Regions from separate parts of the Homo sapiens genome. Here region 1 is linked to region 2. The links come from fine-mapping of genetic effects on gene expression. Tissue or cell type: lung. Region 2 holds a variant in brackets; the other region holds the start of a gene. All regions are shown on one strand. Distances are between the middles of the regions.

Region 1 (8,000 bases), 47 kb before region 2:
CTAGTAAGACAGACTGAATACAGAAAACAGTCATACAAATATATAAAGTGTGGTAAGTTGGTTAGAATGAATCTCTCTCTCTTTTTTTAAGTAGGAAGCTCCCAAAGAACATTGTTATTTTTCACTTACTAGGAGCTCATCTGTTATAGAAAAGAACAGTTGTAAGTCATACAGAAACAAAAGCACAGTCATTCAAGTATCCACATTACAACTGTGGGGGATTAGCCCCTGAATTTATTGTTAACATTTTGAGGATCCAGTGCATTTTTTGTGCTTAGTAAGCAGTATCACACCCTAAAAGTGGGACAGTGTTTATTAATCTGGTTATTAGATGGTTTTTCCTATCAGCAACTAAATTGATCAAAAACCATTCTATCCTCAGAGGATAATGTAGAAAAAGTCAGGGTGGTTACTGGGGAGAAAGGCAGGAGAATTAGAGATCCTCACCAACAGTGCCTATTCTGCAAAGCCTATGATTTAGGGGGGTGGCCCAGCCCCAGGAAGGGCTCTCAGACTTAGGGCATCCTTTAGTTTCCCTATTAGTAACATTTCTAGGGGGAAAATGAGATTGTTTAGTACTGAAGCTAATGTTTAGCAAGTACTACTATTATGTGTTAAGAGTTTTGTATTACATAAATCCTGGCTGGGGACCTCTGCCCCTATCTTGTCTAGCACGAGGGAGGAGGCCTGATGTTTTCCCACCATCCTATTTGTAGAATTCTTAGATATCTGCATGTGAACTATAGGATTATTAGAAGGCACCAAGACCTGTGCTACCTTTCCCCGTGAGCTGCTTACTGTAGGGCTGAGTAGGGGGGAAGTGTCGGCAAGAAAAGGGTGTTTTTTTTTGAGTGCATCTCAAAGTTAATAGAACTCTGGAAACACTTAAGAATTGTGCAGCTGGTGCCACTCTCTGGAGAGCTGTGTGGGGCATAGCTGGGGTTCACCAACATTCTGGAATGGGCATGCTGATGATGCAGATCACCACTCTCACACCTCAACCCCTGGGAGGGTGAGGGAAAGAAGTTAATTTAAAAAATGGAATGCCTCGTCTAGTTGCTTATGGGTAAAGGAGAAGAATCAGGCTCCCCCTTCAAAATCCTTGTCCTCCCTTTCCAAACACATCGGAAATATAGATAGCATAAACTATAGTTAGTGGGGATGGATTGGGAAGTAGACAGCAGGCCAAACAGAGGAAATGTCCCCACCCCTTATCGGTAGAAGGGGCTGTGCCCACAGTGTTCTATCTATGCTGGGCTGAACTGGGGAGATCACCCCCAGAGCACTTTTTAGCACCTCCCAGTGCTACTTTTGGGATGGTTAAAAGTATGATTGTCCCCAAACCCTAATTGCCATGCAGCCAGTACAGAACTGCTGATTGTGACTGAGCATTCTCAGGTTTAAGAGATGATAGGAAGAGTAGATGACTGGATTCAGGAACACTTCTGTTTGTTTGTTTTGAGAGAGTCTCTCATGGTTGCCTAGGCTGCAGTGCAGTGGCACGATCTTGGCTCACTTCAGTCTCCACCTCCTGATTTCAAGCAATTCTCCTGCCTCAGCCTCCCAAGTAGCTGGGACTACAGGTGCATGCCACTGCACTCAGCTAATTTTTGTATTTTTGTAGTGATCGGGTTTCACCATGTTAGCTAGGCTGGTCTCGAACTCCTGACTTCAAGTGATCCACACACCTAGGCCTCCCAAAGTGCTGGGATTATAGGTGTGAGCCCCCACACCCAGCCCAGGAACATTTCTGCTTTTGCTCTAGGGGCATTTTCAACTTTCTCCTGGGTTCGGCATGGGCCTCTGACTTTAGCAGTTTTTGGCAGCTCCTGGCCTTGTTCCTGCCCACCCCTCCACTCAGATGCCAAAGATTTCCTAAGTGATCCTATTCGTAGGCAGCTCTGAGCCTTTCTCCAGAAAGCCTGCTTTTAGGCAATAGGAAAGGGGGAAAAAAGTGAATTCTTACCAGGAAAAAATGAATCACAATCATCCATCCCCATCCTCCATCCAGGGTTTTAGTGTAAGGTTGGACCTTCCCCTCCCTCTTCAGCATGATGCCTCTTCTATTTTAAATGCAGAAGATCCCTGTGATAAATCCAAGACAGTTGATTCAGTGGACCAGAAACTAATCTAAACTTTTAAACTTTTTATCTGAAAGGGAACGTTCATACATTGTTGGTGGGAATGCAAATTAGTTCAGCCACTGTGCAACGCAGTTTGGAGATTTCTGAAAGAACCAAAAATTGAACTACCATTTGACCCAGTAATCCCATTCCTGGGTATATACCCAAAGGAAGATAAATTGTTCTACCAAAAAGCCACATGCACTTTTATGTTCACTGCAGCATTATTCACAATAGCAAAGACATGGAATCAACCTACGTGCTCATCAACAGTGGGTTGGATAAAGAAAATGTGATACATAGACACCATGGAATACTACACAGCCACCATAAAAAAGAACAAAATCATATCCTTTCCAGCAATATGGATGCAGCTGGACCATTATCTTGAGCAAATTGATGCAGAAACAACCAAATACTGCATGTTCTCACTTATAAGTGGGAGCTAAAAATTGGGTACATATGGACATAAAGAGGGGAACCACAGACACTGGGGACTACAAGATAGGGAGGGAGGAGGGTTGAAAAACTCCCTATTGGATGCTGTGCTCACTATCTGGGTGAGGGGTTCAATTATACTCCAAATCTCAGCATCAGACAATATGCCTTTGTAACAAACCTACACATGTACCCCCTGAATCTAAAATAAAAGTTGAAATGTAATACAAAACAGAAAAAAAACCTCTTTCCCTATGATATAAAACCACTTGTAATTTTTTTTTAACCCCTCAGTTACAGATGAAGTCTGCCTGATGCAACTAAGGACTTAGTTACCTGGAAAGCCTGATCTCAGTGACTGTGGGGTGGCCACTCCTAGAACTGTACTCAGTGTCCCTCCCCCCAGGTCTGCAAGCCAGTTTCTTGGAGAAGCTGTGCGTCACCCTGCTGGTCCTCCGGGTGAACTCTTAAGAGAAATAGAAAGGGAAGGCGAGCCTTGAGTTTAGGAATTCTCCTTAGAAAACACTTGCTAAATGTAAATATTTTTGGAGCTAAACAGACATGACAACGAAATGCGATACCCGCTTATTGAATATATCCTAGATCAGAAAAAAAAGTTGTAAAAGACAGTTTGTGGGGACAGTTGGGGAAATTTGAATATGGACTGTATAATACAGAATACTGTACCAAGGTTAACCTCTTGGAACCTCTTCCACAAGAGAATATTCTTAGGAGATACATGCTAAAGTATTCAGGAGTAACATGACACTATGCTACCTTCTCCCAATCGGTTCCGTAAAATAAACAAGTGTATATAAAGAATGATAGCAAAAAGAAAATGTAAATGTTCTGAGGAAGGGGGAACAGTACTCATTATTTCCCCTGTCGGGTCGAAGGCTGACTGTTTCTAACTGGAAAGGAAAGTCAGCTGGCAGGGTATGCGGAATGGCCATCTGGTGAGCAGGCTGGGTGGGGAGAGATGCCAGTCGTTGTTAGAAAACCAACCCAGCACACAGTCCCATTCCCATCTTACCTTTGATGTGGTGTTCAGCAAAGAAATCCTCCACAGATGGGGCAATTAAGGAAGAAAAATAAATTACACCGTTTTCTGGAATGTTACTCTTTTTCTAAGGCATTTCATTTTGCTGCATTGTGAAAACAAGTGAGCATTGTAAGAGCCAAGGAGGGCTCAGACGATTTAGGCCCTCCTGCTAGTGGACTTTACTTCCTGAGGGGAGGAGGAAAGACTGTGATTTGATGTCATCTCAGGCCCTCCCTCCACCCACAGTCACTCAGAAGGTAGAATTTTTTGCCGCAGGCTCAAAAGCAAGCATGAAGTAAACTAAGTGGAAAGTCCTTTTGGCGACTATGCTCAGGGCAGGGGGATGGGGCTCCAGAGCTCTCATACACTTGTCTTCAAATTTCCTCAGGGAACTTCTCACAACATGCTTATTTTACAGGAGAATATAAAACTCCTGGATGGGTGGTGAGAGAGGCATTTCCTGGGCCACAAACAGAAATCTTCAGTAAGCTCAACCCATTCGTGTGGCCTTTTGTATATTGACTAAAGATTCTGGTTACTAATTTGGGGTTTCAGACCCCATTTTAATTGCATTTTTGAGATCTGATTACCTCAACCACCTCCTGCAAAAGACGTATGCTCGTAGTAATTTTAATGAGATTTTTTTTATTATATTTTGGAAATGGTTAAGGCTGAGACCCCTAGAAAATTACTGGGATAATTCAACTTTCTCTTCCCATTTCCTCCCTCTACCCTCCACATAAAACAAAACAAAACAAACAAGTCAAATGGGAAATTGTCTTTCGTCTCCCACACCAATATTCCAGATTTTAAACCAGAGTATATTTTAGACGAAAGGATGTGTTTTTAGTTTTATCTGGAAAATCTGCACATATTTATGCATGTTCCTTTTTAAGAAGCAAGAGGCTTCTCAGATTCTTAAAATCAAACTCTATAATACTTTTTGATTAAAGTGCTTGCAGAAGGACAGCTTAGTGGTTTGGGAGGGTGCCCTGTAAGTGTAAGCATGGAAGGATTATGCAGTTACATGATGCTGGTGGCAAGGATCAAATAAACATTCAACAGAAGGAGAAAACCCAAAGAGAGAAGGCAAATAAATGCTTTTCAGAGAGCTGTTTGTAATTATGAATACACTCTAGACAACTTTTTTTTTTTTGAGACAGAGTCTCACTCTGTCGCCCAGGCTGGAGTGCAGTGGTGCAATTTCGGTTCACTGCAACCTCTGCCTCCCGTGTTCAAGTGATTCTCCTGCCTCAGTCTCCCAAGTACCTGGTACTACAGGCGCATACCACCACGCCCAGCTAATTTTTTGTATTTTAGTAGAAACGGGGTTTCACCGTGTTGCCCGGGCTGGTCTCAAACTCCTGAGCTCAGGCAATCCGCCTGCCTTAGCCTGCCAAAGTGCTGGGATTACAGACGTAAGCCACCGTGGCCAGCCTGAAAACATTTTTTAGTAAACAAGACTGATTTATTTATTTTTTTGGTGGCACGCTTGTTGCTCTTTTAAAGCAGGGCTATCTATGATTTCTTTTTTTCTTGAGACAGGGCCTGCTCTATTGCCCAGGCTGGAGTCAGTGGCATAATCATGGTTTACTGCAGCCTTGACCTCCCCAGCTCAAGCAATCCTCCTACCTCAGCCTCCTGAGTAGCTGGGACTACAGGCATGCACCACCATGCTCAGCTAATTAATTTTTTTTTTTTTTAAGAGATGGGGGTTTCACTCTGTTGCCCAGGCTGTTTGCAATGTCCTGGGCTCAAGCGATCCTCCCATCCTGACCTCCCAAAGTATTAGGATTACAGGCATAAACCACTGTAAGGAGCCAGCTATCCATAATTCTAATCACAGGATGAAATGATGCTAGGCTATATATATATTTTTCTTACACACACACACACAGAGGAATATATATATACACACATATACATATAGGAACATATACAACTGGGAAGTTAGATTTCAGGAGGGTTCCTACCATTCCTTAAATGATAATAGTGAATCATTGTGCCTAACCTATGTAAACAATACATTATATATGTGTGTATATATTCCTATTCATCTTTGTCTTATAATAGGCTTTATATTGATAGAGAACTCTGATGCTAATGCCTGGGGTCAGATTTGAAATGCGGCAGAACAGCAAGTCATTCATAGAGGCCAAGAGGACAGCAAAGTAATCAGAGATGAACTTCAAACATATGTTTCATAGAGGCACATGAACAGAAATGCAGGCTTGGTGATAATCTCAATTTTGTCAGTTTTTAAGCCCGTAGACTCTGGGCAATTTACTCTCTTTGAGTCTGTTTCTAAAACTCTAAAGCGTAGCTAATATTTTGCAAGGTTGTTGTGAGGATTAACAATATATAATGTAAGATGACTGCACATTGGACCTACTATTGGTACTTGGTTCATGAAAAATAATTTTTGTTAGTCAAATGAGGCCTAATAGCAAGAAGAAAGAATTCTTAAGCCACCTTTGGGATATTAGTTAACATTTTGGCATCTGTACCCAATTGTCTTAATAAAGCTTGTAGGGTCTTTAACGAAACATAAACAATTCCCTCAACTTCTAACCTTTTAACTCTTGGCCCTAAAGCTATTCAGCAAGAATGCAGCATGATTTGGCAATCACCACTATTACCCCCATCCCAGTGTCAAACATAGCCAGCCCAGGAATAATTTTTAACACTTATGGATTTAGACTTTAATAAGCTTTACCAACTAGAATTAAGATACTTTATTTTTAGTTGACTCTCTCCTTGCCCTCATTCAATCCTTGTTCAGAAAAGAGTTAACATCGCTGGCCTGAGATTCCTATTCTTTGAAAGGCCTGTTTACATGGTTGGCCTCTGGCTGGCAACTGGGAACTTAGATTTCAGGAGGGTTCCTACCATTCCTTAAATGATAATAGTGAATCATTGTGCTTAAACTATGTAAACAATACAATTTTTATGCTGAACATTTGCTTTTTTCGGGAGCTTGGAATTTTGATATGTGCTAGGCAGAGAGGGTACTTTGGTGACCAGCCCCCTTGGGCACTGAGTCTCTACTAAGCTTTCTGGATTGGCAACATTTCACACATGTTGTTACAACTCATTGCTGGAGGAATTAACTGCATCCTGTGTATCTTCACTGATAGAAGAATTCTTGCAAGCTTCTGCCTGGTTTCTTCTGGACTTTGCCCCATCCTCCTTTTGCCTTTGTTGAGTCAGCTTTGTATCCTTTCACTTTAATAAACCATGTAAGTACAACAACTAAATGCTCAGTCCTGTGAGTCATCCTAGTGAATTATCAAACCTGAGGGGTTGAATGAGTCTGGGTTCTCGAGAAAGAATAGAATATTCTCCAGAGCAAGAACCAGTGATGGGGGAGGAGATATTAAGGTTGATTTACTATGAGAATTGACTCACATGATTATGGAGACTGAAAAGCCTGCACTCTGGTCAGCAAGCGGGACACTCAAGAGAGTTGATGGTGTAGTTCCAGTCTGAGTCCAGAAGCCTGAAAACCAGAAGTGCTGATGGTGTAAGTTTTAGTCTGAGAGGGCCTGAGAACCAGGAGAGCCATTTGTGTAAGTTCCATTCTGAGTTTGAGTCCAAAGTCAGGAGAAGACTGATGTCCCGACTCCAAGACAGTCAGGCAGTGAGAAATTCTTTCTTAGCCTTTTATTCTATTCAGGCCTTTAATGGATTGCATGAGTTCCGCTCACATTGGGGAGGGCAGTCTTCTTCAGTCTACTGATTCAAATGCTGATCTCATCCAGAAACACCTTCACGGTTACACCCCAAAATAATGTCTAGCCAAATACCTGAGCATCCCATAGCCCAGCCAAGCTGACACATAAAATTAACTATTATAGAAGTGTCCTGGGACTCCCTCATACAAGCATACTTCAGCTTTGGCTCTGTACAGACTAGAAAATGAGCCTTTTCCAGCCTCAAGCTCTTTCCAGCACATCTTATGTTTCATTGATAAATTGGATACATTATATCCTACCTCAAAGGGTGCTGTGAAGAATAAATGAGAATGTATGTTCATTTATTTCATTCAATAAAAACAATTGCTTCCTATGTGCCAGACGCTGTGCCAGAGGGGGATATGTGGTAGACACAGGGTGGCATGAGATGTGGCCCAAGGGGTTAGCAGGGCTTGAATTATGCAGGGGTTGGGAGGTCATGGTTAGAACTTATTTTTTTTTTTGGATACAGGGTCTCGCTCAGTCACAGCCCAGGCTGGAGTGCAATGGCACAATCTCATCTCACTGCAACCTCCGCCTCCTGGGTTCAGGTGATTCTTGTGCCTCATCCTCCTGAGTAGCTGGGATCATGTGCACCACCACACCCAGCTAATTTTTTTGGATTTTTAGTAGAAATGGGATTTCACCATATTGGCCAGGCTG
Region 2 (8,253 bases):
TGGATATAATGCCTGCCTGCCTGCCTTCTTACTATCTGCACAAGCATTGGCCTCTGAGTGAAACCCAGAGTCTCTGCTTTGGATGCTGGGGACCTGGGCATCTTTGTCCCCTTGTGTCTCCTCCTGGCGCTGGCCAGGGGCCTACAAAGTGCACTTGGCACCAACTAGTCCAAGTCCTTGGTGAACTTGTCATTTTCCTTAGTTCTCTCCATCCTCCTGGCCCTTTTAGGGACCTGTCACAGTGCCTGCTGAGAGTGATTGCCCAACAGAAGCTCCTCCTGCACTCTCAGCCCACAGTGGGGGCAGGGGCAGGCCGAAAGGCTGGAGAGTGAGAGAAAGCCACCTGCTGGGAGGTTCTGGCTTTGTTGCTGCCACTGACTCAGCCCCAGGCCTTTCCCCGTGTGACCAGCCCATCAGACTCACACCCCTGAGCTAACCTGCACCCAGGCCTTCCTGGCAGTACAGACTCACGCTCAGGACAGTGTTTCATGCCTGTCTTTCTAAGGAGTTTCTGTAGGATTTCAACATGTGATCTCCCTGCCCTGCTGCCCTCAGAGCTACTCATGTGACTCTGTTTCCTTCTTTTCAGTCTTTTAAAATTGTGGTGAAATGCGAATAACTTAGAATTTACTATTTTAACCATTTTTGAGTGTACGATTCAGTGGCATTAAGTATTTTCCTTTCTTTTCGCTCCTGGCAGCCTTATCAATAAAGCGGTGGTCCTGTCTGTTTCCCCCCAGGCCACAGGGTGGGTGTCGGGGGTCAACTTGGATGCCCAATATCTCCCATTTGGATGAAAAGTTTCTATTCTGACAACCACCCATCTGAAAAATGTAAACTTCCATGGAATCTGCCTTCCTTCAGCAGGCAGCTAATGGGAGGCTTTTTAAATTAAGAAATTAGAGTGAGTTGGCTGGTCACAGTGGCTCACAATTGTAATTCCAGCACTTCGGGAGGTCGAGGCAGGCAGATCACTTGAGGTCAGGAGTTCGAGACGAGCCTGGCCAACGTGGTGAAAACCCGTCTTTCCTAAAAATACAAAAATTAGCTGGGTGTGGGGGCATGCACCTGTAATCCCAGCTACTCAGGAGGCTGAGGTTTGAGAATCGCTTGAACCCGAGAGGTGGAGGTGCCACTGCACTCCAGCCTGGGCAACAGAGCAAGACTCCATCTAAAAAAAAGAAAGAAAAAAAAATAGAGTGAGTTGGTCCTGATTTCACTTACTCCTACTTTTACCAGCCTATGTGAGGAAGGAAAGAGCACTGGATCCAGAGCTTAGAACACCTTAAAGGCTGCTGGCTTCTGTGGGGCTGGCACCACTGGGGAGAGGGACTCCAGTCAGCTGGTGAAGGGCTTGGGTCCCTGGCTGCTTGGAATGGGAACTTGTCTGATCTTTCCCCAGAAGCTTGCATTTGTTTGGGATAGAGCCAATGTGCTGTCTTCGGGCAGGAGCCTGCCTCTTGATGTACTGTGTTTGTATCAGAATGCTTCTGGGTACAAGAGATAGAGAGCCTGGCTTAAATTCAATTAACATGTGGTCAAATCAAGGATCCAGGTTCTTTCATCTTTCTGCTCTGTCATCCTCAGCATTGGCTTTTTTCCTAAGACTGGTTACTCTGATGGTCCCGACTCTCCAACTACCGATGGTGGAAGGAGAAGGGCTCCATGATTGCTTGATTCACCCAGCTGTAGAAAGAAAGAAACCACTCTCCCAAGCATAGACTTTATGGCCTTCCCTTCTGACTAATCAGGCCAGCGTAGTTCACCTGTACACCCCTGGATCATCCGCAGTTACAGGTGAACAATGTGGTGGGTTGACTGTTCAAGATGCAGTGCTAGTGCTGGGAATATGGTCAGCTTCCCCTGAAGCACAGCTTCTAAGTACCCTGGGGAATTGCATTACCTGTAGGAGAGGTACACACTGAGCAAAACTTGGTTTCTGTTAGAGGAAAAGACTTGGGGAGTGGTCCCCTACAGCAATGTTTTTCAAACTGTGGATTGAGATCCATTAGTGGGTCATGAAATCAGTTTAGATCACAGCTTATGGGGCAAATTCAGCCTTTATTTATTTGTATGAATAAAGTTTCATTGGAACACCGCTACCCCCACTCGTTTCCTATTGTCAATGGCAGCTTTCCCACTACAATGGCAGAGTTAATTTAATTACTTGGGACAGAGATCATATAGTCATCAAAGCCTAAAATATTTACTCTCAGGCCTTTTGCAGAAAATATTTGCTGATCCCTGGTTTAGCGAGTTGCAACCAGTACTAAAAGATGAAACAGATTAGACTAGAATAGAAAATATATCAGAGTGCATTGCCTGTGATAGGGATAAGTATTATTTCATAAACCCTTGATTTTAGTTTTATATAAACATAAATTCGTGCTTGTGGGTGCTGGGCTCTAGTTTATTTCTTATGGTGGGTCATAGTCAAATAGTTAGAAAAATTGCACTAGAGCACCACTCATTTTTTGCCGTGGAAATAGCTACTTAAGAAGGCCTATTTGTAATAGTGCTGCCCTTTGGGTTACATGTGATCTCTGTACCTAAAAGGTCAGGTGCTGGGGAAGATGCCTTGAATTAACAAAGGGCCATGAAACAATTTTGGGGGGTGACCTGGGAGCACTGAGTGAGCAACAGTATAGGATGAGCAGGGATCTGGCCAGGAGGAAGCTGGACCAGCCGCGCTCAGACTTGAAGAGACTGTGCTGGAAGATCTAAGCCTTTGTTGCTTCTAACATTCTGTGATTTTCAGAGGGGCGTTCACCCCATTCTGTGGGTGGAAAATCAAGGCCAGAGGAGACCACACACAGAAAACTCAGGGGCAGGACTAGTGGCTTTGGCCCTTTGGTGGCTTTCTGCCTGCCGTCCCCTGACTGAGTTTTCTTTGGCCCACGCTCCAACTATGCCTGGAGAGAAGCTAGACCAGATGGAGACTAGCTGGGAGCATTGACTCCTGGGTTCTCCTCTCCTGAGAACTCTGATCTTGCCAGCACAAAGGGGAAGACATCTTCTCTGACTCCTTCAGGGAAGGGAGTCCCGCCGACCACAGCTTTCCACGTTTCTGGGCCTCTGGCTTTTAGCAATTGCCCTCCTTTCCCGCCAACTCTGGCATCTTCCTGCCTGTGTGGGAGTCACTAGCGTGCAAGGAGGCTGAAGGGCCTTGATTGTCTGTGAGAGCCTCTGCCATTAGTAAGGCAGTCGTGGAATGTTTATGGCCTCTGCCACTTCAAAGACATTGCTGGGCTCCCATCTAGGGGATGGCTTTGACATTTATAGGAGGGTCAGCGAGCTAATAAACCAGAGAGGTTTCTAGTGCCTGAGGGATCCTCTTACAAGAAGAAATTTATTTCACATAGGAATGTCCAGAAATTTATTGGAAATATCCAGCCAAGTGCGCATACTAACTAACCCCATGCTTCATTTTGATGAGACCTTATGTCCTTGGACAGGAGGCCCTGTAAGGCAGCTTCAGACAACGGGCTCCACCTCAGCAGGAGCAGCTGGGAGCCTGGGCTCTTCTTTCTGAAACTGCCTTCAGAGTTGGATGGAAGAAGGGCAATTGCCAAAAACCTGGCTGAATCTGTGCTCAGGTGGAATTTTCTATCTCAGCTGCTGCTGAAATCAAAGATGAGCTCAGGCACTGGTCTTCCAAGATGTCAAAGCACAAGTCCTTTCAGAAAGTGAACTCACGTGGACCCCAACTATGTGAAATTGCTGCATTTGGAGCTGCTCTGTCCCAGTGGTGTGGGCAGCTTTCTGCTGGACTCTTCTAGCCACAGGGAGGATACCCTTCCTCCCAGGATAGCCCCCAAGGCACTGTGTCTGAAAGCCCCTTATTTTGAAGAGAAGAAAAATAAAGTCCTAAAATGTTGAGGTGACATCTTAGCTTGGGTTCCCCACAAAACAGAGCCAGAGGCAAAGGCTTGGGTGCCAGTAGTTTATCTGAAGGTGATTCCAGAAAATAGAAGAAAGAGTGGGGGGAAAGAAGCAAGGAAAGAAGGAATGCTGAGAAATAATGTGTTCTCCAGATTGCAGGCTGGATTCTTCCATAGCCCCCAGAGAAGAGGTCTAAGGCCCTCTGAGTTGGAGCATTCACCCACTGGTTCCTACTCCCTCTGGTTGAGGGTTCCTCCAGTGGGGAGGGATTAACTTCCTGTACTTGCAGGCTGTGCTGATGAGTGGGTTGAGCTCCTGCAGTAGAGAGGCCGTGGGCATCACATGGGAAAAAACGGTTTTCCAGGTTGACCCTGTTAGCACAAGGTGAATGTCAGGCCTCTGAGCCCAAGCTAAGCCATCATATCCCCTGTGACCTGCACGTATACATCCAGATGGCCTGAAGTAACTGAAGAATCACAAAAGAAGTGAAAATGGCCCGATCCTGCCTTAACTTATGACATTCCACCACAAAAGAAGCGAAAATGGCCGGTCCCTGCCTTAACTGATGACATTACCTTGTGAAATTCCTTCTCCTGGCTCATCCTGGCTCAAAAGCTCCCCCACTGAGCACCTTATGGCCCCAGCCCCTGCCACCAGAGAACAACCCCCTTTGACT[A/G]TAATTTTCCACTATCCACCCAAATCTTATAAAACGGCCCCACCCCTATCTCCCTTCGCTGACTCTTTTCGGACTCAGCCCACCTGCACCCAGGTGAAATAAACAGCCTTGTTGCTCACACAAAGCCTGTTTGGTGGTCTCTTCACTGATGCGAGTGAAAGTGAATCTGAGCTCACATGGAATTTTCTATCTCAGCTGTTCCTGAAACCAAAGATGGGCCCAGGGGACATGATGTTGTGGGGCACCAGGGGAACCTGCTATCAGGAACCCTTGGGGTCCAGAAAGTCCATGAGCTGGGCCTAGGATGCCAGCGATCCACAGGCAAGAGTAACATATGAGATGTATACTTATGCATGTGGGTATACATGATCGCACCTGGGCATAGAAACACACACACACACACACACACACACACACACACACACACACTCATTCATTTGAATCTTAGCATTTGGAAGGATTGTGGAAATAAACGAAGACCAAATGAGACAAGCAAAAGCTACTTGGCCCAAGCTTGCTATAGCAAGGGAGACCGCCACCCTCACTTGCGTATTGATGAGACCTAAAGGCAGGCAGAGGAGTGGGAAAGGTTTACAGTGGGAAAAAGGGAAGGCTTCAGGTGTTTCCTGATTGGGGGCTGCTGGCCTGGGGAAGCTGTAGGCAGGCTCACTAGAAGCGGGGCATCCTATGTGATTGGTAGGGGGTGCATATTTAGCTTTCTCTGGTTTGTCCTGAGTTGGAAGTGGGGACAAAAATTAGCGGGGGCGGGTGCTGTTGGTTATTAATCAAGTCCTGGCCATTTGGGGCTGATTGTTTACAGCGGTTATTTTTTGGTTTTCTGGATTACTGTGAGAGATAGCAGCATGATTTGTTGCAAGTCTGACTTATGGTAGCCGGGCTTCCTGGATTGTTTATGGTAGATAAGGGGTTGGTTTCCTGGACTTGCTGCTGCAGATTGTAGGTGCAATCCCTGTTTTTAGATATGGTCTGGCTGTTGTCCATTTGTATACTCAGTCTCTTAGGATCTTAAAGGGTACTAAGGAGAAAAATCCCCTCCATATCCTCCCTGACAGAGGGTCAGCTGTAAGGCCTATTTCTGAACATATTTAGCAATGAGAAGCTCATTGCTTCCATAGCAGCCAATTCCCTTGTCTGCTGGGATATTCTTCCTTATACTGGGCTAAAATCTTCTTCCCTGTACCTTCCACACTTTGATCCTATTTTGCCTTTTGGGGCAACACAACTCTCTCATATGTGAGAGGCAGTGCGGCACAGCAGTCAGAAGTGTGAGCATCTAGAGTTAGATTTGGGGTCAGGTTTTAGCCCTGTGACTTACTATCTGTGTGACTTTGGGCCATCATGGAGCCTTCGTTTCCTCAGCTGGAGTAGTGGTGGGGTAGTGATGTCTACTCAGGACATCAGACAATGCACGTAGACTGCCCAGTAATGGATCACTGCAGTGGAAGGTTGCCATCATGGCTGCTTTTTCAGGCTAGGCATCTGCAATTCGTTCACTTCTTCTTCCTCATAAGCTTGGTTGCCATTTCAAGACCTACCCTAAAACAGCGCACCCACTCTCTGGCTCTGGAACTCGGCCTGCAGTGGACCAGAGAGAGAGTGCAGTCCTGGGACTGTGCCTTATAGGGTGATGTATGGTTTGGCTCTGTGTCCCCACCCAAATCTCATCTTGAATTGTAATAATTCCCACGTGTCAAGTGCGGGACCCAGTGGGAGGTAATTGAATCATGGGAGTGGTTTCCCCCATGCTGCTTTTGTGATAGTGAGTGAGTTCTCATGAGATCTGATGGTTTTATAAGTGTCTGGTATTTCCCCTGCTGGCACTCATTCTCTCTCCTGCCACCCTGTGAAGAAGTGATTTCTGCCATGATTGTAAGTTTCCTGAGACTTCCCCAGCCATGCGGAACTGTGAGTCAATTAAATCTCTTTTCTTTATAAATTACACATTCTTGGGTATTTCCTTATAGTAATGTGAGAATGGACTAATACATAGGGTTAGAGTGTTTGGAAGCTGACAGGTGACAGGGTGGTGGGAGGTGGAAATTGAGGGCTGCTGGGGAAGAAGATGATCAGAAGATTAGCAGGCTGGACTTTCTGGTGTGTGGGTGGGGGGACCTAAGGCTGGTAAGGCAGGTGGGATAGGACATTGTCCTGTTAAGTTTCCAACCTAACCCCCAAACTCAGCCTTGGGCTCCAAGTTTGGGAACGCAGGCTAAGAGAGAAGGGCCCCAAGCTTTCTTCTGGGCGGGGCCTTTTGCGAAAAGCTCCAGCAGGTCCAGACTGTTAAGGCTGCCTCTGGGCTCAGGGCCCCCATGCTGCCTTTCCCTCCTGTGCACCAGATTCCCCCAAATATGAACCTTCAGGGAGACCCCATCCCAAGGACAGAGCAGGGGGCTGAGACTGGAGAGCATTAACAAACCTGGTGTGGGGGCCGGTGGGAGAAGCCCCAGAGTAGGAGGGGAAGGTGGGATGGGATGGGCATCATGGCAGGATGGTAGAAGGAGACGGTGGAGCTTATTAATGTCTCTTGTGGCCAGGGGCAGTGGCTCACACCTGCAATTCCAGCACTTTGGGAGGCTGAGGTGGGTGGATCTCTTGAGGCCAGGAGTTCAAGACCAGCCTGGCCAACATGGAGAAACCCCGTCCTCTACCCAAAATACAAAAAATTAGCTGGGTGTGGTGGCACACTCCTGTAATCCCAGCTGCTTGGCAGGCTTAGGCACAAGAATCACTTGAACCTGGGAGGTGGGGGTTGCAGTGAGCCCAGATTGCGTCACTGCATTCCAGCCTTGGTGATAGAGCAAGACTCTGTCTAAAAAAGAAAAAGGCCTCTCGTGCCTTTTTTCCAGTCCTTCTTGACTGGTCAGCCAACTCGACAGCTCAGCTCCTAAGTGAGCCCCCATCCTGTGCCTAAGGCTGACCAGGCATGAGGAAGTGCAAACACTGCTTACCCTGAGATCCTGCTGCTGCACCTCCTTTCCTAGGCTCTGCCAAGTTATCATGGAATGTTCTTAAACAATAGTCCCAGCCCTGTGGCCTGAGAAGATGGTTCTGTTAGAACAACTCTCCTTTTCACCTTTCCAGCTAAATGATGAGGGCTCCAATGGGGCTGAAGAGCAATGTCCCATCATGAAAGATATCCCAGTCCACAGGCGTGTTAGCCCACCCTCTCTCCTTCGGTTCCCTTAAAAATCTGGGAGGTGAGGCAGGTCCTGAAGATAGAGACTGGAAGGAGTGAGGGAATCCAGCTGATCTCAGTGGCAGAGCTGGGACTCAAACCCAGGCTTCTTCATTCCAGGCCTCCTCCTCCTGGGCCATAGCTGGGTGGAGTTTGGGTTCTGCCAGTGTCTAGCTATGTGACTTAGGCACTTTCATGACTTCTGGGTTCAGGTTCCTTCTGGGTTCAGGAACTTATGGGTTCAGGTTCCTTCTCCGTGTGGTGAGGGGGTAGAAACAGACCAGACTGCCTTGGGATGAAACCTTGAGGGTGAAAATGCCAAGTCCTGCCCTAGCAGCGGGCAGGAGAGAGAGCTGTGGAGAGAAAGCCCTTTCCCCTCTGTGGCTGGCTTCTCCCTGGCCTCCTGGGTCAGCCTGAGCCATCTCCCCTCTGGGCAGTGAAGCGGTTTTTACCCTGCCTGTGGCTCTCAGTTTCTTTGTAGACTCCTTAGGCATTGTGA

What was found. PIP is the estimated chance that this variant, and not a neighbour inherited with it, causes the effect.
Region 1: SLC16A4 starts here. The variant in region 2 is fine-mapped to the expression of SLC16A4 in lung (TOPMed, PIP 0.95).

The regions. Positions count from the first base shown.
Region 1 is chr1:110,387,271-110,395,270 of GRCh38, forward strand. It overlaps SLC16A4 (solute carrier family 16 member 4), which reads right to left and starts at 3,756. Exons shown (of 9, transcript NM_004696.3): 1 at 3,595-3,756; 2 at 1,967-2,085. The coding sequence starts at 2,053.
Region 2 is chr1:110,433,657-110,441,909 of GRCh38, forward strand. No RefSeq gene overlaps it. Among named protein-coding and RNA genes, the nearest start is that of PROK1, 13 kb to the right of the region's middle. RefSeq lists a silencer at 248-437. The variant A/G (reference allele first, on the strand shown) is at 4,559.